4 linked regions of the Homo sapiens genome follow. The protein of the gene in region 4 interacts with the protein of the main gene of each other region in a pairwise test. Each region holds a gene or a part of one and is shown on either strand. Other genes may lie near its edges. The genes, in order: CRYBA1, SEPTIN3, VGLL3 and LASP1.

What was found.
Region 1: the proteins of LASP1 (region 4) and CRYBA1 interact in binary tests that used the Homo sapiens proteins (3 or more experiments, as listed by UniProt).
Region 2: the proteins of LASP1 (region 4) and SEPTIN3 interact in binary tests that used the Homo sapiens proteins (3 or more experiments, as listed by UniProt).
Region 3: the proteins of LASP1 (region 4) and VGLL3 interact in binary tests that used the Homo sapiens proteins (3 or more experiments, as listed by UniProt).

The regions. Positions count from the first base shown.
Region 1 is NC_000017.11:29,241,854-29,249,876, forward strand, and holds the start of CRYBA1 (beta-crystallin A3), read left to right. Parts: upstream 1-5,005; 5' UTR 5,006-5,010; coding exon 5,011-5,041; intron 5,042-7,288; coding exon 7,289-7,353; intron 7,354-8,023. UniProt on the Homo sapiens protein: Crystallins are the dominant structural components of the vertebrate eye lens.
Region 2 is NC_000022.11:41,972,425-41,979,448, forward strand, and holds part of SEPTIN3 (neuronal-specific septin-3), read left to right. Parts: coding exon 1-572; intron 573-4,084; exon of another isoform or gene 4,085-4,159; intron 4,160-4,353; exon of another isoform or gene 4,354-4,640; coding exon of another isoform or gene 4,641-4,650; intron 4,651-7,024. UniProt on the Homo sapiens protein: Filament-forming cytoskeletal GTPase. May play a role in cytokinesis.
Region 3 is NC_000003.12:86,967,147-86,974,170, forward strand, and holds part of VGLL3 (transcription cofactor vestigial-like protein 3), read right to left. Parts: intron 1,978-7,024; coding exon 1,444-1,977; intron 1-1,443. UniProt on the Homo sapiens protein: May act as a specific coactivator for the mammalian TEFs.
Region 4 is NC_000017.11:38,866,222-38,873,059, forward strand, and holds the start of LASP1 (LIM and SH3 domain protein 1), read left to right. Parts: upstream 1-3,836; 5' UTR 3,837-3,968; coding exon 3,969-4,037; intron 4,038-6,838. UniProt on the Homo sapiens protein: Plays an important role in the regulation of dynamic actin-based, cytoskeletal activities.

The sequences.
Region 1 (8,023 bases), 9.6 Mb from region 4:
CATGCCCTCTAGAAAACTAGACTGACAGAATACGCTGCTAAAATTTAATAAAGAAAAATATCGGAAAACAAGAAAAATGGAGTGAATTTTCCAAATTCAAAGGAAACATTTTTTATCTGAATTTTTTTTCTAAAATCTGTGCTACTTGCTCCCACTTGTCTCTATGAGAATTTAGCAAAAGATGGTATCTGACTTGGCACAGTCAGTAATGCAATTACCATGTGGTGATGAGTTCTGAGTACCTAGCATTGCTCTAAATCCCTTTATTTCCCTTCATCTGATAGCAGTGGTTAAGGTAGATATTATCACCCTATTTTGTGCCAGGAAGAAAGAAGATGGGCTTTGCAGTCAGATAGACATATACTGAAGTCCCTGCTAGGTTCCCTGGCCCAGAACTTCCCTGGCCTCTCAGAACCTCAGTTAGCTCATCTGTAAAATGGGTATTATTATCTACTTCACGGCATTGTGGTAAGGATTACAAAGACACTGTCTGGTTTTGCAGTCAATGCTCAGTAAGCTGTAGTTATTATTAATAAGGATGAACAGGAGAGACCCATACTCAGCCTGGGAGAAGGGATTCCAAGCTGGTTGCTCCCTTCATTACCACTCCTTGAGTGGCTCTGCTTTAACTTTCCTGGAATGAGATGGGGCTGGGGGCTGCCGCAAGGGAAGCAGCAGTGCCAGACAATGTCAGAGGGGGAATCCGCCAGAACTCTGTTAAAAACTATATTGAGTTGACATTTGGAAGGCTTGGTGGTCAGTACTGGAGAGCTGAGAATCCTCAATCTTTCAGGACTTAAGGTGATTGAGAAAAGTGGATTGAGGCCAGATGAGGACTTATGACTCCAGGAATGTATGATGGATATTTGTAAATTGTTCTCACAATAACCCTGATTCCCACCCGACCACCACTATAGTTCTGTGCATGTGTGTTTGGGCTTTTCAATCAAACATAAAAGCCTCGCTTCTCTGCAAAAATTAAAAATTAGCTAAGTTGATCTCCATGTACTAGCAATTCAGTAGGATGTAAAGCCCCCATATTACGATGCTGAGGGTGTGTGAAGCCCAAGCAGGCCAGTTGTGGCTGGGGTGAGAAGGCCAAACTCAGCTGGGTGCTCCTAGCAATAAGGACTATGCCACCAGAATCACAAAACCCAGTCATTCATTCATTCATTCATTCATTCATTCGGAATATACTTATTGAGCTAGAAGGTATGCTTAGAGCCGAAGACGTAACAATGACCCAGGCAGGCTGCAGTGGCTCACACTTGTAATCCCAGCACTTTGAGAAGCTGAGGCCAGTGAATCCCTTGAGTCCAGGAGTTCGAGACCTGCCTGGGCAACATGGCAAAACTCTGTCTCTACAAACAAATACAAAAATTAGCTGGGCATGATGGCGCACACTTACCATCTCAGCTACCTGAGAGGCTGAGTTGGGAGGATCGCTTGAGCCCGGAAGGTGGAGGTTGCAGTGAGCCATGATCGTGCCACTGCACTCCAGCCTGGGCAACAGAATGAGACCCTGTCTTAATAAAAAAAAAAAAGAGAAAGAAACAACCAAAAAAAAAAAAAACCTCAGTGAACTAGACAGATGAGGCTCCTGCCCTTATAGAGCATGGAGGCTAGTGGAAGAATTAGATAGGTAAACAATGTTTTATTTTTTAAAATCACTTAGTCTTAATAGAAAATATGTTCCCAATGTTCAAAATTTAAAGATTACAGAAAAATATACTATGAAAAGTCTTGTCCTGTATCTGAGGCCCAAGTGCCTCAGTTTCCCCCAACATTTGGAAACCAGTACTTCTAGTTCCTAAAGCAATTTCTGCAGCATGATCAATGTGATCTTGTGTAATTGGAAAAGCACAGGATGACATGAGGACACACTGTGAGGGCCTAAGCCAGCCTAAGAGTGGATGATTGAAAAAATGACTAAATGAGTGTTTCCCAAAGACCCTAATTCTGAAGAAAGGAAGGAGGAAGAGAAGGGAAAGGAAAGAAGAATCACCAACCATAGACAGCTAGTGCTTTAAGCCCTTGCACAGCCACCAGGTGGCCAGAGCATGCTATGATACCAAAAGCAACTCTGTCCCCTGCCAGACATCCGTCCAGACATCACGAGTTAATCAAGGCATCAGAAACATCCTTGGGGCGATGTGCCATGCTTAGCATCAGATTTATATGTCTAACAGCAAGTTTGTCCAACCGGCAGCCTGCAGGTGGTATGTGGCCCAGGACAGTTTTGAATGCATCCCAACACAAATTAATAAACTTTCTTAAAACATTATGAGATTTGTTTTGTAATTTTTTTTTAGCTCATCAGTTATCATTAGTGTTAGTATATTTTATGTGTGGGCCAAGATAATTATTCTTCTAATGTGCCCCAGGGAAGCCAAAACATTGGAAACCCCTGGTCTGGAACGTTCTACCCAAATCTGCAAATACTCGAATACATACCAGACCTCACCCCCTGATTTTTGGTTCTGAAGAAAAGGGGCCACTGATGAAACTTGAGTCGGGGACTGGAGAGATTGCAGAGGAATTGAGAGAACTTTCTTTTTCTCTCCAAGCTGCTATGAAATTTTCTTTTTTCTTTTTTTTTTTTTTTCTGAGATGGAGTCTCGCTCTGTCCCCCAGGCTGGAGTGCAGTGGTACAATCTCGGCTCACTGCAAGCTCCGCCTCCCGGGTTCACGCCATTCTCCTGCCTCAGCCTCCCAAGTAGCTGGGACTACAGGCGCCGCCCGCCACCACGCCCGGCTAATTTTTTGTATTTTTAGTAGAGATGGGGTTTCACCGTGTTAGCCAGGATGGTTTCGATCTCCTGACCTTGTGATCCGCCCGCCTCAGCCTCCTAAAGTGCTGGGATTACAGGCGTGAGCCACCGTGCCCAGCGAAATTTTCAATAGTATCTTTCATTGGAAAGAGAGTAGGGTAAGGAGTCATAAGCCTACAATGTATCAGGCAGATATTCTATTTTTGAGGTTGAGAGAGTCTGAGTGACTTGCTTCAAATCTCCCAGCCAGGAAACTGGGATTTGAACCCACATCTGCCTGGCTCAAAGCCTTCCACATCCATTGCAGCCTCTTGCTTCTCACAATATCTGTGATGCTTGCAGAACACATCTTCCCCTTCAGGGCCCCTGCGGAGGCCCACGATTCCCCTACCTTACCTTCATCAAGTGTCCTGAAGTTTCTGGGAGAAGTCATTTTACACTTTAAGGTACTATACGCATAGTAACTTGGGCCTGTGAGATTTCCAAAGACCTAAAACAATTCAGTAAAACGTCAAAATTGGCCGGGCACAGTGGCTCACGCCTGTAATCTCAGCACTTTGGGAGGCCGAGGCAGGCAGATCACTTGAGGTCAGGAGTTCAAGACCAGCCTGGCCAACATGGTGAAACCCTATCTCTACTAAAAATACAAAAAAATTAGCCGGGCATGGTGGCAGGTGTCTGTAATCCCAGCTACTCAGGAGACTGAGGCAGGAGAATCACCTGAACCTGGGGGGCAGAGGTTGCAGTGAGGCAAGATCGCACCACTGCACTCCAGCCTAAGCAACAGAGCGACACTCTGTCTCAAAAAGAAAAAAAAAATTGGTTTTGAAGGTGTGGGTGGCAGGAATTCTCGCCCCTGGCCTGGGTGAGCTAGAGGGGAGAAGCAAGGACATCTAGGTCCCTATCACCGCTTGCCTAGACAACTTCACAGGAAGGCCCCCGGGAATCTGAGATGGAGCAGGTGAACCCTTTACATCTAGATGGTGAGTCCAAAGGAGGTATTCAGAAGGTTGCCTTCTTCCCCTTCCTACTGCTGCCCAACGATGACCCGCAGGCTGAAAGAGCCCTTTCCTCCTGGAACTGATGTGGGACCTGGCCTGTTTGGGAGCAGAATGGTGAAAGGAATTAACATGGAAGACAAAGGGACAGGCAGCCAAGATCATTTGAGGAGGAAAAATTGCTTCATTTCTAGGCTCCTTCCCCTTTTGAAACAGATAAGTTACATCCATTATATGCTCAGTGTTTATATTCAGAACTGCAGTTCTAGCCAGGGGGGTCTCTTTCCTCTCCTGGAATTTTTTGGGCCATTTATGCATTACTCCTGAGGGAGGGCCAGTGCAGGGCAGTGACTTTGGTGTTGGTTAGAACTGGATTCGAGTCTTGGCTCTGCCATTATAAATACTGTGACCTTAGGCAAGTCACCTGATTGTTCTCTTAGTTTCTTAATCTGGAAAATGGAGGTGAAAATAGCACTGTTGTGGTGGCTGTGAAAAAGTATTTCTTTCTTTTGTTGTGGAAAAGTATTTAATTCAAACTTTTTAAGTAAAGCATTTAGCACATGTCTAATATATAGGAATTATTCAATAAATGGTTTAATTCTTTTTTAAAAAACCCAAAAGTTATAGCTCCAAAATTTTTAAAGAAAATTGCAAAATTAAAAGGAATATTTAATAAAATAGCTACAGAGAGACACATGTCTGCTAGTCAACTATAATTGAAGTCAACCCTTACATAGTTATATATAAATACAGCATAATAAAGATTCCCAAGAATACAATGAACCATTTTTTCTCATATTGAGTTCAGAATTACAATAATTCTTTCACATTTTTAAACAACAAGAAATGCACATCTGTATGGAAGTGAGGTGCATTTTGATGTGTTTGATATGACATGGGGTCTCCCAGGGTCTTAAGGTCTTAGGAAGATCCCAAGGTGGTGTGAGGAACCTGGAGAAGGACAAGAGACAAGTACTCATGGCAGAGACTTCTGTCCTCACCCCCTAGCTGCTCTGAGAGATTAAGAAAGCCAAGGCCTGCAGCAGCCAGCCATGCCCACAACAGAGGGGCCTCTCTGGATTTCTGTATCCCTGGTTTAAACAAAGGCCCCAGCAAGCTGAGCCACCAAAGCTCTGGGGATCATGAGGAACAAAGGCAGAGGGAGAGCAGAGTGCTGACAGGGCCAGAGGCCAGAGGCCGCAGGGCTATAAAGAGGAGGGCCACAGAGCAAGTGGTACCAGATGGAGACCCAGGCTGAGCAGCAGGAGCTGGGTGAGTAAGGCCCTCAGGGTGCCCTTGCCCTTCCTCTCCTTGCCCTGCAGAGACATGCCCAGGAGAGGGCCCAGTTCTCCTGCCTAGTGTGTAGAGCCTTCTAGGGTGGCTGGAGAAGAGTGGGGAACTCTGGCGGAAGACAGCCTTCTCTTGTCACCCCAAGAGGAGTCACTTATATAGCAATAACCACTGCCCTAGCAACTAAGGCTGGGGGATGGGCATGGGCCCCCAAGAAACGAGCAGGGAGAAGGTATGGGAGCAGGACCTGGGAAATGTTGCTTATTCAGAGATTCAGAATGGAAAAATATATTACAGAGTTGACATGCATCATTCCTGGGCCCAATACCAGCCAGGAGGAGGGCCATGAATATCTGTCCTAAGAAACCTAATACACACCTGCCTGTCTTCCTTCTTCCCTTCCTCCCCCACTTTTCCTTCCTCTTTCTTGCTCTGTCCTTCCTTTTTTAAAACTCGTCCTACCATCTTCACTGTCTACCTAACCTCTTTGAGCCTCAGTATCCTCATCTGTAAAATGGGGATAATGATAATTCTTAATTCATAGTCTGTATGTGAAGATTAAATGCATGAATGCATGTAAAGCATTTAAAACAGGGCCGGACATGTAGATAGCCATTTTTGAGTGTAAGTATTATAACTCTTTTCTTCTTCACTTTCCTTCAATAAGTCTTTTTCAATGTCCCCCTGATCCCTCATCTCCACATGTGCTCAGCACGATGCTATACCAATCCCCTAGAAGACCGAGGCCTTGCCATTGAGGTGCTCACCAGGACATCCAACCAGAACACAGATTGGTACTGTGATGAGTGCTATAAATCAAGAAAGCAAGCAAGTGGCTGTGGGCTGGAGAAGGCAGGAAAGCCTCTGAGAAGGCAAGGTCAAGGCTGGGTAGGATCTAGGAGATAGAAAAGCAGAAAGGAATGGCCAGGCGCCGTGGCTCATGCCTGTAATCGCAGCACTTTGGGAGGCCAAGGCGGGCAGATCACCTGAGGTCGGGAGTTCAAGACCAGCCTGACCAACAGGGAGAAACCCCGTCTCTACTAAAAATACAAAATTAGCCGGGCGTGGTGGCACATGCCTGTAATCCCAGCTACTAGGGAGGCTGAGACAGGAGAATCGCTTGAACCTGGGAGGCGGAGGTTGCGGTGAGCCGAGATTGCGCCATTGCACTCCAGCCTGGGCAACAAGAGTGAAACTCTATCTCAAAAAAAAAAAAAGAAAAAGAAAAGCAGAAAGAGGCCAGATAAGGATGAGACCGTGAAGGGTTACGAGGGAGTCTGGGGCTTGGGATCCTGGCATGGCTGGCTGTTTGGCCAGTCACATGAGGGGTCTGGCCTAGGTGGTTGCCAAAGAGTTTATATTGCAGACAGAGGTAATGCTGTCACCTGAAAGCAAGTGAGAGGACAGGGTCTCAGTGCTTTACCTGCATTATTGTTTCTGATCCTTGTTTTTTTTCTTTTTTTTTTTTTTGAGATGGAGTCTCACTCTGTTGCCCAAGCTGGAGTGCAGTGGCACGATCTCAGCTCACTGCAACCTCTGCCTCCCGGGTTCAAGCGATTCTCCTGCCTCAGCCTCCCGAGTAGCTGGGACTACAGGCGTGTGCCATCATACCCGGCTAATTTTTGTATTTTTAGTAGAGACGGGGTTTCACCACGTTGGCCAGGCTGGTCTCAAACTCCCGACCTCAGGTGATCCGCCCGCTTTGGCCTCCCAAAGTGCTGGGATTACAGGCGTGAACCACCGTGCCCGGCCTATTATTTCTGATCCTTACAATAACTGCATGTCGAAGCTTTACCAATGGAAAAACTGAGGCTCAGGCTGGGCGCGGTGGATCACTTGAGGTCAGGAGTTTGGGACCAGCCTGGCCAACATGGTGAAACCCCCATCTCTACTAAAAATACAAAAACTAGCTGGACATAGTGGTGCATGCCTGTAGTCCCAGCTACATGGGAGGCTGAGGCGGAAGGATCACTTGAGCCCAGGAGGCAGAGGTTGCAGTGAAGTGAGATTGTGCCACTGCACTCCAGCCTGGATGACAGAGAAAGACCCTGTCTCAAAATAGCAACAACAACAACAACAAACCCCGAGGCACAGCTAGTGAGCAGCAGAGCCAGAATTTCAACCAAAGTCTGTCTTGCAGACTTCAAGTCTCCTTTACCTTTCAAGGCATTCCCTCACCTCCCCCTCCTCCCAAGAGGCCACATCATTCGTGTGTGCTCTGTCTTCCAGAAACCCTTCCAACCACCAAGATGGCTCAGACCAACCCTACGCCGGGGTCCCTGGGGCCATGGAAGGTAAGCCCACCCCCATCACATCCAACAGGGCAGGGGTGACATGCTGCACAGAGCAGGCCCCAGGCCTGTGCTCGTCCATAAGGCAGTGACTGACCAGAAAAACCCCAGTTTGTAGGGGAAAGGTCCACACAAGCTCCAGTGCTGTCGAAGGAAGGATCTCTCAGGATGTCCCACTGGACAAAGGAAGGATGACTGTGGATGCCATTGATGGGTGGGAGATGATACCTAGTTTCCTAACTCCTCTCTCCTCCCCACTAAAGTCATCTTAAAATACAGCAGCCCAGCAACAGTTATGTCCATGGAGAAAATGAGGGCCCATAAAGATATTTACTACTAGATCCCAAATAAATTACAGGACTCAGCCTCCCATCCTGAGGTTGGCTTTAACCATTGGCCGAAGTGGCTGATCCTCAGGCCTCTCACTGGCCTCTCTCCAACACTCCCCACTCTCCTCATTGGGTCAACTCTGAGGCCAGCTCACAGCTTTGCGAGTGGTCCTCTGGCCAGGTCCACGAGCCAGGTTTTAGTTCAATGTACAAAAAGGGTTGACCATAACTCTCCTTTACACTCTAGGTTTCTATAGGGGGTATGGCTGGAGAAGCTAAGAATCTATAAGGAGCTCCTGGGACTCCCAGAATCCTGGCCTCTGGGCCATGCTTATGAAGGAACT
Region 2 (7,024 bases), on a different chromosome or scaffold from region 4:
TTCGGTAGGGACAGTCAAGTCAGGCAAAACCGTGAACTTGGCTACAGCAGGCACAATCAAGCCGGGCACAGCCATGAATCTGACTACAGTTGGGACAACCAAGCCAGGGATGGTCATGGATTTGATAGCCTCAGAACCAGACAAGCTGGGCAAAGCCATGGCTACAAGAAGCACAGCCAAACCAGATATGACCACAGAGGGTATAGCCATGGATTCAGCAACATCAGACCCAGTCAAGCCGGACACAATCACAGCTACAGTGGGCACCAGTAGGTTGGAAACAGCCATGGCTTTGGCCAGAGTGAACAGAGCCAAGCTGGGCACGGCTAAGAATTCTCTTGCTTTGGACACAAGCAGGATGGGCACAGCTGTGGGTTCAGTTGTGCCAGTAACCCCAGACCCAGCCACTGGGAAGACCACACTGGGCAGTGTTAATAACCTAACCATATCAGACGTTGCTACATGCCTGCTAATGCCAAGCAGATCCACAGACCTAGCCCTGGACAACACTAATGCTGCCATGGACAGAGCCACAGAGCCTGCCTCACTGGACCTGGCCACAGAATACAAAGGTAAATGCAGAAACTTGGTTGGGGATGGACTAGGCTGCCGGGAGGGGGAGGTGTGTGAGCTTGGAGATGGATCATGCTTGCATGGGTTGAGAAACGGAGGAAGGACTCTAAGGTCAGGGTTGAATGGGTTGGGAGAAAAGGAAATGGGGGTTGTAGGGCCAGACATAGGGACTGTACCCTGAGCTGGGTTCTAACCTGCCAGTCTGAGGTCAGGCTGAGGGAAACTATCAGAAAGAAGGTTTTGGCCAGGTGTGGTGGCTCATACCTGTAATCCCAGCACTCTGGGAGGCTGAGATGGGAGGATTGCTTGAGTGCAGGAGTTCAAGACCAGCCTGAGAAAAATGGTGAGACTGTCTCTACAAAAAATAAAAAATAAGGGGCTGGGCACGGTGGCTCACGCCTGTAATCCCAGCACTTTGGGATCTGCCCAAGGCGGGCAGATCACAAGGTCAGGAGATCGAGACCATCCTGGCTAACACGGTGAAACCCCGTCTCTACTAAAAGTACAAAAAAAAAAAAAAAAAAAATTAGCCGGACGTGGTGGCGGGTGCCTGTAGTTCCAGCTACTTGGGAGGCTGAGGCAGGAGAATGGCGTGAACCCGGGAGGTGGAGCTTGCAATGAGCCGAGATCATGCCACTGCACTCCAGCCTGGGCGACAGAGCGAGACTCCGTCTCAAAAAAATAAAAAAATAAAAAATAAGGGTTGGGCACAGTGGCGCACACCTGTAATCCCAACATTTTGGGAGGCCAAGGCGGGTGGATCACTTGCGGTCAGGAGTTCAAGACTAGCCTGGCCAACATGGTGATACCCCGTCTCTACTAAAAATACAAAAGTTAGCCAGGTGTGGTGGCACATGCCTGTAGTCCCAGCTACTTGGGAGGCTGAGGCACGAGAAGCACTTGAACCTGGGAGGCAGAGGCTGCAGTGAGCCAAGATCGTGCCACTGCACTCCAGCCTGGTGACAGAGTAAGACTCTGTCTCAAAAAATAAAATAAGATAAAATAAAATAAAAAATTAGCAGGGCATGGTGGCATGCATCTGTGGTCCCAGCTACTGGGGAGGCTGAGGTGGGAGAATTGCTTGAGCCCAGGAGGTCGAGGCTGCAGTGAACCATGATTGTGCGACAGAGCAAGACCCTGTCTCAAAAAAAAAAAAAAAGAAAAGAAAAAGAAAGGTTAACAGGGGTAACTTGTGGAGGAGCAATTATGGTGAGTCCTCCTTTCAGCATCTCCCGGGATTGTTTGTTTCCTGAAGACCTGGAATAATCAGGTGATCAATAGGTGTGTCCACCTTTAAAAGCAGTGGCTCACACCTGTAATCCCAGCACTCTGGGAGGCTAAGGCGGGTGGATCACGAGGTGAGTTGTTCAAGACTAGCCTGGCCAGGCCAGGCGTGGTGGCTCACACCTATAATCCCAGAACTTTGGGAGGCCGAGACAGGTGGATCACGAGGTCAGGAGATCAAGACCATCCTGGCTAACAAGGTGAAACCCCGTCTCTACTAAAAATACAAACATTAGCCGGGTGTGGTGGTGGGTGCCTGTAGTCCCAGCTACTTGGGAGGCTGAGGCAGGAGAATGGCGTGAACCCAGGAGGCAGAGCTTGCAGTGAGCCGAGATTGCGCCACTGCAATCCAGCCTGGGTGACAGAGTGAGACTCCGTCTCAAAAAAAAAAAAAAAGAAAAAAAACTAGCCTGGCCAACATGATGAAACCCCGTCTCTACTAAAAAATACAAAAAATTAGCCAGGTGTGTAGGCTGAGACAGAGAATTGCTTGAACCCGGGAGGCGGAGGTTGCAGTGAGCTGAGATTGCGTCACTGCACTCCAGCCTGAGCGACAGAGCGAGACTCTGTCTCAAAAAGAAAAAAAAAAAAAAAAAAAAAAAAAAAAGCAAGCCTCCTACCTCCTACGTGAAAATACTGACTAGCGCTTTAGGAAGTTGTGATTTGTCTAATAGGTAGTCTCTGCAGCCTCCTCTGGATGTGAGATAATGACCTCACTCGAGACTTTCCAAATCCATTTACGCTCAGCCTTTTAGGAAGGTATCTGTTGCTTAAAAGTTGTCTTACCTGAATGTCTCTTTCTTGGTCCCCCACCCCCAGCCCTTTAATCCTGAAAGGTAAGTTGGAGCCTTGTATATATGGAAGTCCTACACAGAACTCTAAAATAGGGCAACACAAGGGCTGGACATTCATTTGGTCTTAGAAAGCCTGTGACATGCCTAAAGTCACACCAAAGCTGGCTGGTGGCAGTAAGCTGATTGGAATCCAGATTGTTAAAATCTCTACTTTGGGCAGCCTCATTCCCAACATTTCAAGGGCTCAGAGTTTTTGGGTCTGGAAAGGTGCCTAGAAGGCATCCAGTCTAATGCCTTAATTGAGTCGTTAGATTGTCAGACCCCTTTCCCTCCACCCCACACACTCAGTCTGGGCACCTCACCTAAATTCTGGTCTTCACTTCTCCCTACGAGATCTCAGCTCTCCCTCCATCTGCAGCCCAGCCCTGTCTCCTGAAGTGCAGATGTGGGCAGCCAGCAGCCTGCTAGGCTTATCTACCCGGATGTCTCCCGGGCATGTCCAGAGGTAGCCCTTTTCTTCTTGAACTGACTCCTGCCTCCCTGATCTCACTCTCTCAGCTGTAGGCATTGCCTACCTTTTATTAGGTGCCTAGAAACCCGGGTATCCTCTTCTTCCTCATCTCTCTCTTGCCATCTCATCCAGTCTACTTCCCACCTTGTTGGTTTACCTCCTCAGTACTCAACTATCTGGCTGGCTGTCCCCTCCTCTCCATCCTTCTGCCCCTGTGAGGCCACCTCCCACCCACCAGCTTGTTCCCTGTCCACACACAACTGCTGCAACGACTCCCACATTGAATGGCAGCACTTTCGGCTTAATATTCGTCAGTGACTCACCATTACCTTCCATTAAAATCCAGCTTCCAAGGCTGCGTGCGGACTTCTCCAGCCTCTTATTTAGCTCTACACACCTGTCTGGAATTTTCTCTGCTTCAGCGACACCAAGGACTCTGGGCTGTCCACCAGCACCACGCAGCTCTCACCTCTGGAGACCCTCACCTCTGCTGTCCTCTCTTTGCAGAATACCTCTCCCTTTCCATTCTTCCCTTCCACTCCCATTTGCCTTTCCATCTGGCCCTCATCTCCTCCAAGAAGTCTTCCAAGCCCCCTCTCCCCAGGGTGCCCACCTGCCTGCACCCTCAGTTCCCTGTGTGCACCCCGGCCCCTGCATTAGGACATTCCATCTTCCTGTCTCCTCCACTAGACCCAGAACCTTCGAGGGGAGGGATGGTTGTCCTCACCCCTGTGAGGCAATATGCTGTCCATTAGTATCCACTGAATGCGTGAAATTTTTTTCTAATGGGCAAACTGAGGCTCAGAGAAGTTCCTGTCTGGCTCAAGGTTATTGGTTCATCATTCTGGAGCAGGGCCTGGAACCCGGGCCCCTGACTCGGCTCTACAGGCACCCGCGCAACACCCCAGCCCCCGCGTGACTCACGCGCGCTCACGGCCGCCCGCAGCTGCCACTGGTCCCCTGCGCCCCTCCGCCCGTCCCCGCCGCAGCCCAGTGGGTAAGGGGCGGGGAGCAGGTCCAGCGGGGAGAGACGGGACTGGGATGCAGGCACCTTTCCGGGCCTGGCACCTGGAGCCCGCGGGGGCGGCTCCTGGACCGCCCGCAGCGTGGACCCGGGACCAGTTCCCGCTTGCGGGCGCGGGCGCCGCGGGAAGGGGAGGGGCCCTCGGCGGGGCCGACGGGCGCGCGGTCACGTGGTGCGGGTGGCAGCGGCGGCGGCTGGCGGCGGCGGCAACGGTGCGCGCGGACAGGGGCGGCGCGGCGCCGAGCGAGCCGAGGCGAGGTCCCGGGGAGGGCGCGGCGGCGCGGGGCGCAGGGGCGGCGCGGCGGGGCCGCGGGCCGGGCGGGTGGGAGGAGAGCGCGAAGGGGCGAGGCCCGTTTGCAGGGGCCGCTCGGCCCGGGGAAGCCCGCGCCCCGCTCAGCCTTGCAGCCCCGCGCCCGGAGCATCTCCCTGGAGGAACGGAGACAAAGGAGGATTCATGTCCAAAGGTAGGGCGGCCGGCCAGGCCACCGGCACCCGCCAGGAGGAGGCTGCGGCCCCGGCCAGCGCGGCTGGAGGCGCTCCTGGGGGAGGGTTTCCGCGCCGAGGAGCCCACGCGCGGTGACAGATGCGCGGACACACGCACACACGGTGGCACCCACCTCGAGAGAGACAATCTTGGAGAGAGGCAGACATAGGACGCGGGGAGACGCAGGGACCCACGGACACGCAAGCAGGGACCCAGATGCGCACAGAAAGCCCCATGCTGGAGTACACCAAGACACGCACACACACACACACCACGCACAGGTGCCAGGGCCATGCCAGCCGGATGAGAGACCTGTGCACTGATACATACGTCCCCTCCCCCGCAACCCCTACAGGCACACGCTGAGACAGGCACCAGCTGGTGGTCTCCAAGGGAACCCGTTGGCCTCCAGAGGACTGGGATGGGGGAACGGGTGTCCCAGGGCCCTCTGCTCCTGCGAATGGGAAAGGACCGAGAGAGCTTTCGTGATTCCTTTTCCCAGAGCCTAGGGCTGGAACTGGGGTGGGCTGGAATTGCCTTTGTGGGGGGCGGTGGGGTCCTGAAGGCTGCGGGGGGCTGAGGAAGATCCATCTTCAGGGTGGAAGGAAGAGGGGGGGCCTGCACTAAGCAGGTGCTATTTTGGAAAAGTACCCTCCCCCAGCTGCTACCTTCCTAACACAGGGGTGGGGTCCCTGGGCCAGACAAAGCCAAAGCCATTCATTTGCCTGTAAAAGGAAGTGCCAGGGTCTTTGCTTAGCATGGGAATGGAGGGGCTGTTTCTTGGCTGCAACCGAGTCAGGTGGATGGTGCCTCTCCCTGGAGCACTGATGGGGCAGGTAGCTTCTGGCAGAGGGTGCTGCAGGCAGATCCCCCTTCTCCAGGGGCCCTAGGAGAGCCAGGAGCTGAGGGGGGCCCCAAGGACCATCTAGCCAGGATGGCAGACTTGAGCTGCACCCTGCTGTGACCCGAGCTCTTCCCCACCCTTGGGGAGCCCCCCTCCAATCCTTGTTGCAGAGGAAGGAGGAGGTCTCAACAATTCTACTCCCTTGACTGTGGCGGAGACAACAGCCATTGCTCACTGGGGGGTCAGCTGCTCTGCATGGGGAGAAGCATCTGAGGGAAGAGAAAGGTGATGTGTCTGATACCTGCCTCACTCTGAAGTTCTCATTCACTCATCATTCATTCATTCACTTATTGAGGAGTGCCTGTGGTATGCTGGGTAGACTGGGGCACAGAGATCAATAAGACACGGCCCCGCCCTAAAGAAGGGTGAGAACTAGTACGTATTTGTGCCAGATAATTTACATTCTTCATTCTGTATAACCTTCATAGAAACCCAGCAAGGTAGGTTCTATCCCCAGTTGTCTGAGCAGAAAATGAGGCTCATAAGGGTCACCCAGCCAGGATTCAAGCCTGGGTCACCTGCCCATCTGACGTTGACATGGTGGGACCAGGGGAGTTGTAGGGACAGAGGATGGAACTACAGAATCCAGCTCCAGAGCAGCATTGGTTCTGTGCCCCAGAGGTCTTTGTTTATTTGTCAGGCACCCTTACCAGACAGGGGGCCCTCAAGGGCAACAACCTTGTCTGGGGTACATAAGTGTCCTTGGAATTTCGCCTAGGGCTTGGCTGGTGTAGACCCCCATTTGACAGCATATGAAATGGCCTAGATGGGATGGAATGAATGAATGAGTGAATGTGATGAGTACCAGAAAATGTGCAGTGGGCACAGAAGAGGGCCATCCACATCAGAAGGCAAAGCAGAGGCTTTCCTGGGAGTAGCAGTGGGGCTGAATGCTGGAGGAGGAGGAGGAGGAGGAGGAGGAGGAGGAGGAGGGAGCCAGGGGTTGGAGGGGGAACAGGATCTTCCAGCAAAGCTTGTGGCACAGTGACCTGCACACATTTACTGTACTTGGGGCTGGTGGGTGGCTTGTTAGCATGTGACTGGCATGTCACTGGCATGTGGTGGGGAGGCTGACTTGCCAGCAGGCGCTGTGTACAGTGCACACAGTGGGTGCTCATATGTGCTTGTTGGAGGAATGAAAGTGAGATCTACCAGGTCCTGGTCCTGTAGTGGGCCTGTGGTAGCCCCTAGATGCTGCTTGGGGATCTGGTAGGACCCTCTCTCCATCAGGGTCTATCTTTTGGGCGTGCTCTTTTAGGATGCTGCAGTTGACAGGCCAGGGCGGAGCAGGCCATGGTGAGAGCACACACTTTATAGGAATCTTTACACAACCTCTCATAAGTAAATACAAGGCATACTTTCCAAGTCTGTAAAATGGGGATAAGACCACCCCCCCAAACCATGTGGCTCTATCTTATAACACAGGTTGAGACCAAATGGGCTCAGCTGC
Region 3 (7,024 bases), on a different chromosome or scaffold from region 4:
CTTTGCCTGCTAAGAGCATTGTTGCTGTTGCCACATAAGTACCACATAAAACAGAGAAGAGCCTCCTGAGACCTGCTGTCCATGAAGGCAGCTGCCAAATTGGGAACTCTAATAAGATCTGGCCTCAGGCATCAAATGACTCCCAAGTTGTCTTTATTTTGTTAGTATGTGGCAAAGAAAGAAGGGAAGCCTGTGCCTGCTGTGCCATCACACACGCATCTGCAGAGGGATTACCAAGTCCCCTGATACTTTGTTTAGAAAAGCAGCTTGAACCCAGTCTCAATAGGAAGCTGAAATGTGTTAGATGGGGCAATGATCAACAATGGAAAGCTCAGTGGAGAAAAGTTAACCAAAATAAGAACGTTCCACTCATGTCACGGGAGAGGTAAAATAAAGCTGAGCATTTATGACTCTGGGGAATTATTTGTTGTGAACCAGCACATGATTAAGGGTTCTCCACACTACAGAAAAGCTAAGGAAGGAAAGAATTTCTTTAAGCTTTTGGAAAGAGAGTTCCAATGTGCCACAAAATGTTCTAGCAAAAGAACCTGGGACCCACTACTTTGGACTCCAGGGATACAATGATCAATTTGTCGTTTTGGGCTCTGATGCCTATGATTTCATGAGCTCAGAACTATGAATACTATTAATATGACCAGTCTGGTCCAAAAATCAAGCTCAGACATTTGACACAGAACCTTCAGAACTATTGAATTCCAGACAGGAGATGAATGCTCTGTGAAGAAATCATTTCCTTACTATTAGTTTCTAAATCTGTTGAATATAAATTTTATAGTAGTCTTTTAAGTCTTGTATTATTTAAATCAGAGACAGGGAGAGAGGAGAGGAACAAAGGAGGAGGAATAAGAGAAAAGAAGGAAAGGCAAAGGAGGATAAAGTCAGGGAACGGAGGGCAGAGGAGGGGAGAGGAGGAAGAAAATGAAGAAAAAAATCATTCTTTTAAAATATGTTCCCTAATTCTTGTTCAAAAGGCTACACTATAGACTATATTTCAGAAACCAGTTTTTATAAGTCATACATAAGGCCTAACAAAAAAAGAAAGGAAAGAAAAATTACTGAAGTGCACCATTTCTGAATTCTGTTAGGCCTGACACATGGTATAATGCTCAGAGACATGGGAGATTTAAATAATGGGCTCATTTCTTTTTAAACAGAAGGTACCAGAGATTCCATTTCAAAGGAACAGACTACTAACCTAAGATATGAGAGAAAAGCTCTGAGACCTTTCTCAGGCTGGATTTCATGAGCTAGTCATACCAGTTTCTGCAGGAATGCAGAAATTATTGCAAAATGGCTAGGTTCCATAAACATGTTGGTAAAGTTTAACTTTACAGATAAGAAAAAATAATTTCAAAACAAATTTCCACCCTTTCTTAAATTAACTTTATCTTGTTATAGGAAGAAAGAAATCCAGCAGCTTACCTGTATCGAATCCCACGCTGGGCACTATGTCTACTGTTCCATGAAAGGCTCCAGCCCATGCTGAGGTAGCAGAGGTGACTGTAGTTGGTTCTGTCTTTGTGATGTCACACTGGGGAGCAGGAATCCTGGCCGCATGCACTGAAGGCATCAGCAGAGGCCCATAGGATGGATCCAGGGCAGAGCCAGCAGGAGGGTGGTGATGGTGATGATGGTGGCGGTGGCGGTGGTGCATGTGGGCATGAGGGTGGTGGTGCCGCATGTACACGTCATGCATATGGCTGTAGGATGGGCTCACCTGAGATGTCAAAGGATAAGGCCAGGACTCAGACACAGCAGGGGGAGGGGCTGGGCCAGTCTGATGCAGGTTGTGTCCCGGCCAAGGACTGGGATCAGCTGCAGAAAAGGTGCCAGGGGGTCCAGTGACCTGGAAGTCAGGATGAACTCCCCCCAAACAAGGTGCAGGTGGGGGCTGGTAAGAGCTGGTCCAAAAGGAAGTTGGGAAACTATTCCGCTGGCTTGAGAGAGCTGAGCTGTCTGAGAAGACAGAAAATAAAAAACATTATTAACATAAGACTCAGTTTTGGGATAGACTTGCCTCTAATTGTCCACTCTAATTGTCCAATAATATTTTACAAGCAGTCAAATTAGCATGCACTCTTATTCTCCCCAAACAGGGGTGAATTGATACCAGGTTGGCCTCTGGGCTCGCAAGCCAATGGGTCCATGTGCAAGATCCAAAGTGTTAAATGAGCCTCCCTCCATTTGCTTTGCTTGGCTTATGCCGTCACAGTCTGTGCTAAGGTTTGCAATTTGGGGATTGAAAAATTTCATTTCCTTCTGAGTACCTTGCAGCCATTAGGCCTAAGAGGAGGTCATATCTACCCACTTCACTGGTAAAGAAATCTTATGCCATAAATGAGGTTTGTATAAGTTGGACATGATCATTTTTACCAACTTCTAAATGCAAATACAATTTTCATTTAAATGAAACATTTTAATGCCGAAGGTAACAATGGAAGTAAGATTACAATTACTTATACTCACTAACACTCATTTTCCATTAAGAAGAGTGTATTCCAACCTCATTTTATTTATTTATTTATTTATTTATTTATTTATTTATTTATTTATTTTCTGTGGAGATCTGGGAGTCTCTAGACCGAGAATAAAAATGGTCAATATTTAATGACAGTATCAAATGCCCAACATTTTTCCAGGGGCTTTTCATGGATAATCTCATAGGAGTTTCATTCCAGGCCTATGGGGTAGTTATTGTTATTATTCCCATGATGAGAAAATCCCAGTAGAGAAGAAGCCTAAGGCTTAAGATGGCAAGAATGGGACTAGGCTTTGAAGCCAGGTGGCCTAAATGGCCAATGGCTGGGCCTCTTCATAAAGTGCCACAAGAGGGCGCAATTGTAACTGTGAACCTCAACATCTCGAATTTGGTGAAGATCCTATGGAAATGATGAGTGGAGGAAATTCAAGTAGAAGTCATGGGTTTGAGGAAGTATTTTGGGGAGAGGGAAATATCAAAGAATAGCACTTAGAGACGAATAAGAAAGAAAACGATCCCCTAACTCTTCATCAGTTCAATTTCCTACTCAATCGTAATAACACATTTATACACGACCTACTATGTATCAAACATAGGCGTCAGGGATGACCAAATGGACATCATTTTTAGTCACAATCTGCAGAAGGATAGATAAGTAAAAACAGACATGTGCAAGGTGACACGGTAGGTATTCTCCCAACAGGAAGCACAGAGAGCCCCGACCCAGCTTAGAGAGTGATAAGTGGAAGCTGACAGACTGAGTGGGGGCTAGCCCTGGGAAGTAAGCTTTAGGCAAATGGATCAGCACATAAGAAAAGGCCATATATTACACACACGCACACACACACACACACACACACACACACACACACACATATGACAGCAGCAGCATTTGAAAGACAAAAAGAGTTCCATAGGCAGAAGGTGGCAACAGAAAAATTGAGACTATTGAAATGAGGACCAAGATGGGTGTAGACTTGCTGGCCATGGTACTGAATGTAAATTCTATTCTGAGGTGGCAGGGTCTCAATGGGCTTTGAAGGGTTTTAATCTAGTAAGTGACACAGTCAAATCCGTTTGTGGAAAGATCAGTGCCTCCACCTGTAGCCTGTTGCCTACAGTGTTGTATAACTAAACAAGCACTGGGCTGGGAGACCAAGGAGCCCAGCTCTGATCCTAGGTCTTACCCTATCTCATTTTATCACCCAATATGGACCCATTGATCTTTCCATGGTTTACTTTCTTTCACTAAGAAAATGAAGTATTTGAACTCATTAATTCAAATTATCTACGGCTTAATACTGCTAACAGTCTGTGAAGTGCCCTATGGATTATTTTTATTTACAGAAGAAGACATTTTCTAAAGATGTTAGTCATGTGAGTTTAAGAGAGTATTTTTATACTGAGTTCCACATAAAAGAACCTTGCTAGATCTTTCCATTGAATGAAGGGTATGAATGGAGGATATCTTAAGAAGTATTTTAAAATAAGAATATTCAAAACTCTGACATTATCTATGTTCTCTCTATAAATATCAGGCCATAGTTTTCTTGCCTCAGGGAAAGCTTAAAAAACTTCAGTCAACCACCACATATATCATTTGGTTAACATAATTCGGCATTACTGTGGTGTGTGAACATTTCCTCTCCCCTAAAGGCTGTGGCAGCAGCACTGCAAGCTCTTCTATTCTCTCCCCTTCAGCTGGGCACCAGAGCTATGATCATGACCATTCATCCCATTCATCCTGTGGTCACACAGCTATTCACAGTCAATTCCCTCTCTCACAACATCTCCATCGATCTCAAAACACTTGGGGAAATCTAGGAAATGGTGTTCTTCAAAAGGCAAAGAATGGAACTGCACACTTTAAGTCTTCAAACAACCTCAGGAAACTTTTAATTGAATGACTTTGTTAAAATCACAATCTATCCAAAAATACCACCTATAATCAGCCTTACTGACATTGAGGTAACTATGTTTTCTTGAATTAACAATCGTCTCTTTGCAACATATGAAAAATACTATTAATGACAAGAAGGAAAGTCGTGTAAGTTGTAAGAAGAAAATTCAATTTGCCTTAGGTGATGGTCATTTGTAAAATATTTCTGTCATACCCACAATGAAAGCCATCAATGTTTAAAGCTTAAAACCCATACAGAGAGTTTAGAGAGGCTCCTTATTCTACATAGTTCATCCTTGCTACCACACATCTGCCACTTTGCTCTCACAACTCCCATCTTTGGGACCAAAGCCTTCATTCTGCTCCTAACTTCCATCTCCCGAGGGGCTAGAATCCTATTATGAAAACCGTTGAGCCCCAACCACAAGTACGTGCCAGAGATATAGAATTCCCCTTATTAAAATCCACCATTAAGATGTCAAAAGTACGGAGAGTATATACCATTTCTCTGTATGCTTTTAGTCTCATTTATATGTACATGGAGCCAATCTTATTTTATAGATGCTTATGCAGTTTGAATATGCATGCGCAAATGGGAATAATGAATCAATTATTTATCAAAAATATTATTGGTCTATTTATGAAGTACTGTACCATGATTAGTGAAGACATTATTACTGAAAGTAGAAATCTATTTTTGAAAATGCACTCCATAAAGATTGAACAAAGTTTTAAAATGCTCCAGGGAAAAATAAAATTAAAAGGAACTTAATATTTTCCCAGTCAATATGTCTCTTGAGATGAATATAAAGTTTGCAAAGATCTATGCAGCCCTTTAAAAAAAACCTGTTACATTTACAATTGAAACAATATTGAGTTGAAAATATGTTTATGAAGAAGTTTATACTTCAAAATCACTATTCGGTGTCTTGCTTGTTTAAGAAAAAAAAGTCTTGATGCAAAGGAAGAGATGATATGCTTTGTTTCATGCCTGAGAACCAGTGTGCTTATTTCATATGTATGTAAATTTTTTTCATTACATGATTCTTTGCTTATGAGTACTTAATCACAGCCACATTTGTTGGATGAAGAAGACATATGAAAAACTGCATGGGCTATTTCTATGCAATATTACATTTCAGGTGAGTGAAGAAAATACAATACTTTATGCTATTAACACTATATGGTGAGTTTGGATTCAATATTACCTGGTATACAGGTGATGTTAACCAATATTTGGATGATGTTGACACTGACAGTCTAACACATACAAAATGCCCAACTGTAATTTTGGTTCAATTTTCATTTGGGGTTAAAAATATTACTCACACATACATACACACGAGTTTATTTCTAGACAAAAAAGAAAATGATAATATTGATACATTGTCTAATAAAATCCACTAAAAGCAAACCCAGTAATCTCACTATCTGATTTAGACTGCAACATGGTATACCAGGTATTTCTTTCAATTTCACAATAGTGGGATACTTTTTACACTGATTGTAAATGTCTCTTAAAAAAAACACACACACACACACATTACCTCCAAAAAAATTTTTTAAAATCTCCGAGTAAAAAATTTAAGAAAGATAAGATTCAAAATTTAAAGAATGATACAGCTTATTAATTTTGAAAATAACAAAAACTAAATTAAAAGGAAAATGGGACAATGAAGTGTTATAGAAACTCTAAGTCATCTTAAAAATTTCCAGAAAACACATTAGAATCAATATTGATTAAAATATGATTATTAAATGCTAAAAGGTAACATTTTTACATTTTTTATTAATATCAGTTAAAAAACAAAATTCTACTCAATTCTTAAGCTAAAGTGTTCTTGCTGTAATTTCATTGCCATTCTCTTGTTGTTCTTCCCATAAAAATAAATGGCTGGGTCAGAAGTGAAATGACATGTGTTCCAGTGTTTTCTGTCATTCAGTAATTATGCATTACCATTATGTCCAAAGATTGCCTTCTAGTTACTTTCTTCTAGAGTTGCTCAAAATGGGCCTTGTGACTCTACAATGAGAGTTTCAAGGGATGATGTCAGAGGCCGATACTCCTTGGAGGCAGCAGGGTGAGATTAGTCACGCCTCACTTTTTTCCCCATGTCTTGGTCCTATGGACATTCTGTTCATTTCCAGTATCAGCCAGCTCATCAGACAGGCCCTCCTTTTCCTTTCTCCATTTGACTATTTAGGTTTCGTATTTATTTTGAGAGCTTTTTCCCATGAGAATGAATTGCCCAAGCAGACCCTATGTACATCAATGAGCCAACAGATGATTTTCTTTGCAACTGCAATATCAGTAAGATTAGCATTCTGTATGGTTTTAAGTCAGTGATTTACTCTGCTATGGCTTGACATAGCTCCTGCCCTTTTCTACAGATACACACAGACTCATTTCTGTAAAGATCAGTGCATAGGCATATTTGAAACCAATGTTTAGCGCTGTGCTAAATTAATCATATAGATTATTTTTAAAATCTTTATAATAACTCTAGGAGAAGGGTATCAAGAAACATATATTTGTATGGAGATAAGGGACCAATCATATTCATTAGGTTTGTTATTTTTTTTTTTTTTTAGATAGAGTCTCACTCTGTCACACAGGCTGGAGT
Region 4 (6,838 bases):
TTTCTTACTTAGTTTTTTTTTTTTTTCTTTTTTGCAACGGAGTTTCGCTCTTGTTGAGAGCGAAACTTGTTGCCCAGGCTGGAGTGCAATGGCGTGTTCGTATTCTTTTTGGAGAGACCAAGGAAAAACTTTATCCAGTTTTGCAGGAGGTTGTTCTCTGACTTGCTAGCGGGGAGAGATGAGTGGGATTGTGGATAAAGAATTGAGCCTAGGCCGAGTGTGGTGGCTCACGCCTGTAATCCCAGCACTTTGGAAGGCCAAGGTGGGCAGATCACCTGAGATCGGGAGTTCAAGGCCAGCCTGTCCAACATGGAGAAACCCCGTCTCTACTAAAAATACAAAATTAGCCAGACGTGGTGGTGCATGCCTGTAATCCCAGCTACTCGGGAGGCTGAGGCAGGAGAATTGCTTGAACCTGGGGGGCACAGGTTGCGGTGAGCCGAGATCGCACTATTGCAATCCCGACTGATCAAGGAGAGCGAAATTCCGTCTCTGGGCAACATAGGGAGACGGCCTCCTTCACCCACCACCTGCCCCCATCTCCACAAAATGGAAAACAAACAAACAAACAAACAAAAATTGAACCAAGCAGGGGTGCGGTGGCTCATGCCTGTAATCCCAGCACTTCGGGAGGCCAAGGCGGGCAGATCATGAAGTCAGAAGTTCGAGACCAGCCTAGCCAACATGGTGGAACACTCATCTCTACTAAAAATACAAAAATTAGCTGGGCGCGGTGGCGGGCGCCTGTAATCCCAGCTACTCGGGAGGCTGAGGCAGGAGAATCGCTTGAATCCGGGAGGCCGAGATTGCGCCACTGCACTCACTCCAGCCTGGGTTACAGAGGAAGACTCCGTCTGGAGAAAAAAAAAAAAAAAGAACTGAACCTAGACAAAGCAGATTGGCACCTAAATTCACACGCTTTTCAAACTGCCACCACGTCTTGGCCTAGCCTTTTTTTTTTTTTTAGATGGAGTCTCGCTGTGTCGCCCAGGCTGGAGTACAGTGGCATGATCTCGGCTCACTGCAACCCCCGCCTCCTGGGTTCTGGGTTGCAGCAATTCTCCTGTCTTAGCCTCCTGAGTAGCTGGGACTACAGGCTCCCGCCACCGCTACCGGCTAATTTTTTGTATTTTTAGTAGAGACGGAGGTGGGGGGGGGGGGGGTGGGTTTCACCATCTTGGTCAGTCTGGTCTCGAACTCCTGACCTCGTGATCCGCCCGACGCGGCCTCCCAAAGTGCTGGGGATTACAGGCGTGAGCCACTGTGCCCGGCCTATCTTGGCCTAGTCTTTTAATTTCTCCTTCCTCATTGGTAATTTCAGTATAATCTAGCAAAGAGACACTAATTTTGAACGAATGGTGAAAGTATGAAAATTTTGGGATCAATCGATGTAAAAACAATTTACCAGAGAGCCACCGCCAGAGGGGGTATAGCTCAGTGGTAGAGCATTTGACTGCAGATCAAGAGGTCCCCGGTTCAAATCCGGGTGCCCCCTCGGGTTTCTTTAAGTTTTTTTCACAGCCATCCAGGAATAACCTGAGTCAGCGAGTTCTGAATGCAAAACTCACGGGAGGTGTCGTTTGTATCTTCCACCTACCTAATTTTCACCTTGAAAGGATTCCCGTACCCTAGAGGGAGAGAACAGCAACCAGAGGCTGCCTTTAGGTGGATCTGAGCCCTCATACCCCAAGTGGCGATAAGCGCACCAGTACTCTCAGTTGGAGAACAAAGGCGCGTATCGATTTCCATCTCCGATGCCCATTGGTTTAACGTTAATTATAATTTGTTTTGGGGTAAAAAATATGTCTTGGACGGGGCAGTAGTTCGTACTTGACTATGAAAACTAGGAGAAGTAATCCAAATTCAGAGGTTTTCATATACTCGCGAACTCGAACAGGACAGGGCACACAGATAGAAGGTAGACAGCGAGCAATTTTCCCCTCTTCCTTCTTGACTCAGCTCATAGGCAGGGCTTTGGCTTGATAAGCTATACATGGAAAGTTCAAGGCCTAAAGGAGAGGTAAAACTGGTTCCTCCTGGGTTTTGCACGGAACCGCAGCTCTGCTGATCTGTGATCTCTCTGTTCAGCCTAGAGATACAGCTCACAGTAATAGGAGCCAGGAGAAAAAAATGCGCGTTTCCCCGGGGTCCGAGGAATGACACAACCACATTCCGGGTTTAAAATATCGCAGCTGCCCTTTGACCCAGGCAGCACGCCTCTTCCTTTCTCCTTTATTTTTCCTTTTTTTGGGCAAAACCTAGTCGAGGGGGACGCCCTTGTCTCCCGTCACACTTACCATTTTCCTCCGGCCCAACAGTGACCCTGTCAGGCACGCAGCCAGCAGATACTTGTCCCCATCTTTAGGTTATGAAACTCCATGGCCTTTTATTCTTACTTCAGTGGTTCTTAAAATGTGGTCCCCACACCAGCAGCACCAGAGGCACCTGGAAACTTGGTAGAAATGCAAATTCTCGGGGCCCCCTTACAGAATCAGAAACTAGCAGTGTTTTAACAAGCCCTGCAGGTAATTCTGATGCACGTTCAAATTTGAGAAACACTGTGTTCGTTTATCTCAGTTTGCACTGGGTTATAACTTTACTTTTGTACATTAATAGTCAAGGATGAACACAGCACGTCCATGTCACCATTAATACAGAAAGTTGAAGTTGGAGAAGGGCTGTGTCTATGGGTTTCCCTCGCCTGACCCACCCTCCACCCCCAAAAGGAACGCCAAGTTGAGGCGTTCCCCTGTCTCCCTACCCCCATTGGAAACATCCTGTCCCTCAAACCCGGCACCTCGAACTGTCTGACCCATCTGAGGCTGGCGCCCGTGGCCGCAGAAATCCCTACACCTCTGGCGCGAGTAATGCGGTCGCGCAGCTTTTATACCCACCCCCTCCTCCCGCTGAGCACAAAGTAAAACCGAAAGATTTCTGCTAAGGTTGAAAAATGAGGAAGATACTTTTTCTTTTCTTTTTTTTTTTTTTTTTAGTCAGGACCCAATGTTAAAATGTGAGTCAAGAATGAAAAACAGATGGTTAACAAGGGGAAGGAAAAACCAAGCCATTGAGGGGGCACCCGGATTTGAACCAGGGACCTCTTGATCTGCAGTCAAATGCTCTACCACTGAGCTATACCCCCGCGCCTCTACAGCGCCTGGAGGCGGCTCCTTGGGTGCTAAGCATTGTTGCAGCTGCTACACTGTGAGTAGTGGTGTAACAGAAGGAGAAAGGAATGCTGGAGAAAAAGGGGTCAAGCTGAACGCAGACGGTGCCCGCATCCGGGGAACCCCGGGAAGGTGCACTGCAGGGGCTCGAGAGGGAAGCACTAGCCCGGGCCCGGCAGCGCGCAGGGTCCAAGAGGGAGGGACGGGTTCCGCCCCACAAATGTGGGAAAGGGTGTGGGCCGGAAGAGAGCTAAGAGGGGCAGGGTAGGGGGTCCCCGTTCGGTCCGCAGATTCATGCCGGGTAGAAAGTCCCCGAATGCGGTGAATCAGTTCCAGCGTTCAGGAGGATCCAACCCCACCCTCGACGGGCTTGAGGGGTTAGCCCGCCTCCCGCAGCCCGGGCGCCCCAGATGTGCAGCCTGCTCGCCTCTGCGCCGCCTCCGGCTGGGGAAGGGCCCTGGGCACCGGGCGCAGTCAGCCTGAGAGCGCTGAGGCGCCAGCACCGCGGGCCCCGCCGTCCCCCCAGGAACCCGCCCCCGCGCAGCCCCACGTCGCCCGGAGAGCGCGCCTCGCTGCGCGTGCCCTTGCCCGCGCCCGAGGCGCGTGCCCGCCCCAGTGCAGCCCCTCCTCCCCGCTGTGTTTATTAGGGGAAGGAGGGCGGAGGCGGAGGCCAGTTCCCCAGCTCCAGCCGCCGTCGCTGCTGCCTGTGTAGTTGCAGCCGCGGCCGCCTCCCGCCAGCTCGCCTCGGGGAACAGGACGCGCGTGAGCTCAGGCGTCCCCGCCCCAGCTTTTCTCGGAACCATGAACCCCAACTGCGCCCGGTGCGGCAAGATCGTGTATCCCACGGAGAAGGTGAACTGTCTGGATAAGGTGAGCCCGGGACCGGGAGACGCGTCTTTGCAATCCCCCGCAGTGCTCCGAATCCAGGGAGGAGAGAAGGGCCGGGTCTTTGCCGCCTTATCCCCGCGATCCCAGGAGAATGGAGGGAGGGCGAGCGGGCGGTGTCATGGGGTGTGGGGACACATCCCAGTCTGAAAACCAGGAGATCTGGGGCGAGGCGGGAAGTCCACGCGTAGCGGGCAGCCGCTGCTGGAGAGGGGTGGGCTCTGTGTCCCGGGGTTGGGAGGACGGGAGAGGAGCAGGGAAGTCAGGCGCCGGGGTGTGTTGGGGGAAGGTTAGGGGTGCAGTCCCGCCCCCTACGGCCTGGAGAGTGAGAAGAGACGGCCGCTCCCTCTCCGCTCTGCGCCGAGCGCCAAGTAGGCGGAAGCGCGGGGCGCTGGTGGAGGGGGCGGGGGGGCGGGGCAGAGGCTGGGGGGCCCTGCAAAACCGTCCGCTCCGGCGGGGGTGGCCTGGCTTCCTGGCCTGGCGGGGCGGGGGCTATCAGCCTGCGAGTGTGTGGCATCTGATGCGGGGGGTTTTGGGTAAGGACCCGGGCTCTGCCGCAAGAGCCCCGTTTTTGAACGACCTGCACCCCCTTGGATTCAGTCGTTAAAGGACTCGCAGACCTCCTCCACAGCTTCCCAACCCCCACCTCCAATTAAAAGCCAACTCCCGGTGCTGGGCCGTCCAGCCTGAGCCGGGTGGGGTTGGGTGGCAGAGTAGGGTGGGTGGAGGGTGCTTAGCTGAGATCTCCTGAAATTGTGCTCAGAGCCAGGAGACCGTGTGGAAGAACAAAGAGCTAACTTTTCAAAGCAGGTTTCTCCAATGGAGGGTGGGGTTGGCTGAGTTCTGGGGAAGCCGAGGAAAGGGGGAGGTATTGGGGGGAGGGGAGGGTGGCCTTGTGGAGATTCAGTGTCCCCTGGGGGCCCTGTCTCCCCAATGCTGGACTTGTTCATCTGGTTGCCATTAGACTTTTGGAGGGGGGTTGGAGAGTAGAACTGGGTGTTTCCCGTACAGTTTAGGGTAGGATCCTGTTCTCTTGTAAGCTCCGTAAGATCCTAAGGTAAAACCTGCCCCTCTGCATCCCCTCCCCAGTCTGGAGGGGAGGCCTCTGTGATTTTGTGCCCTTCCTCACCGCGTCTTTCATCCACCACCCAAAGCTGGCTCCAAGTCCAAGTATTCTGTCCTTTCCATCTGAACTGGGAGGGCTGGGAGGACTGGATGGAAGAGAGGTGCAAGGGTGGGAACACTAGATGAAAGAGGGGTATAGAGCCCTGGGGCCAAGTTCATTACTGACCTGGAGCCAGGTTTTGTTCAGGAGAGGATAGTTTATTGGACACCTTATCTCTCCCCTCCCCCTTGGTGTGTGAGCTTCCTCAGTGACCTTTGGCCTCTGAGTCAGCGTGAGGAGGTGGGGTTGGAGGTTCTGAAAGATATTTGAACTTGCTCTTGGGGAGTGTGGGCATATGGGGCCGCTGCTGTGTCACTGTTCCTCCTGGTCCTGGGCTTGACTGGGCAGGAGGAGAGGAGGGGGTATATTGTGGGCACGAGGAAAGTTGTTGATCTCCCCATGACCATGCCAGCCGCTGTTGGGCAGGACTTGAGCTTAGAGCTATCAGATAATGAAGTCTCCCCTTGAGAATGTACCTGTCCTTGCACACTGGGGTTTCGCCCGCCCCTCGTGGCAGAGATTTTGGCCTCTGCATCTTGAGTTCCCTGTGGTCCCCTTCTTCTCCACAGTCATGAATTGGGAAGAGGCAGTGGGCACTTGACCCGTATAAGGAAAAAGCAAAACATGAAGGCAGGATTGCCACTCCAGGAGTTGGGAAACTGGGTCCTTGTTCCAGGTCTGCTCCCACCAGTTTTATGAATGTCTCTAGGCCTCAGTATTCACCATCTGTCAGATGGGTATGATGATGTCATTTCCTTAAAGGTGGGGCAGTGCACTAAAGTCCCTGAGTGCTAAAGAGGGTGCTGTATAGACTATGCCCTCCCTACCTCTCTGGGATGCTCTGTTCAGCTCCACACCACTCCCCTTGGAAAGACCTTCAGTGCCGTGTACCCGAGGGGAGGGGAGCAGGGATGGGCAGGGTGCCCTCCCCAGTTCTCTTACCCTAGCTGGAAGAGGACGTTCAAGTGGGGGTTGCCCAGGGAAGTGGGAGTTGGTGATTCCTTCCTCTTTTTAGAACTCTCCCTATAGGAAGTGGCCCTGGAGAGACCTCGCCCCCTGTACTGAGCAGGAGACCTGAAATATCCAGGTATCAGACCTATTCCTCTCCACCTGCTCCAGGCAGTAAGGATAGGACCAGGAATGGGGAGCCAGTGCCTGGAGGATGCTGGGCTGTGACCAGGGAGGAGGGGAAACCTTCAGTCCCATAGGCAGCTTCAGTCCCATAGTTGCTAACCAACTTCCCAAGGCCTCCCATTTACAGCAAAAGAGTCAAATTAGACTCACCCGTTTCTCTACAATCCCCCATGGTACTCAGCCCACTACGTGGCCCAAAGCACAGGGTGTGTCCTTGGTTTCAGCCTTTTCTCCTCCCTGAGCCTTATCTCCCAAAGGCATAGGTGGGTAAAAACCTTGTCACCTCTGAAGGCCACCCTGCCCCCAACCTGCAGTACCCAGCATGCTTTGCAAGCTGGATAAATATGTATTGCTGATGACAGTGTTTGAGGAAGGAGGTCGAGATTTGCTTCTCCAGAGGACTTCTGGGATTAGAGCTGGGGGAGAAACAGGGTGACCTCATTTGCTCATTCAACAAATATTTATTGAGCACCTACTTTGTGCACCT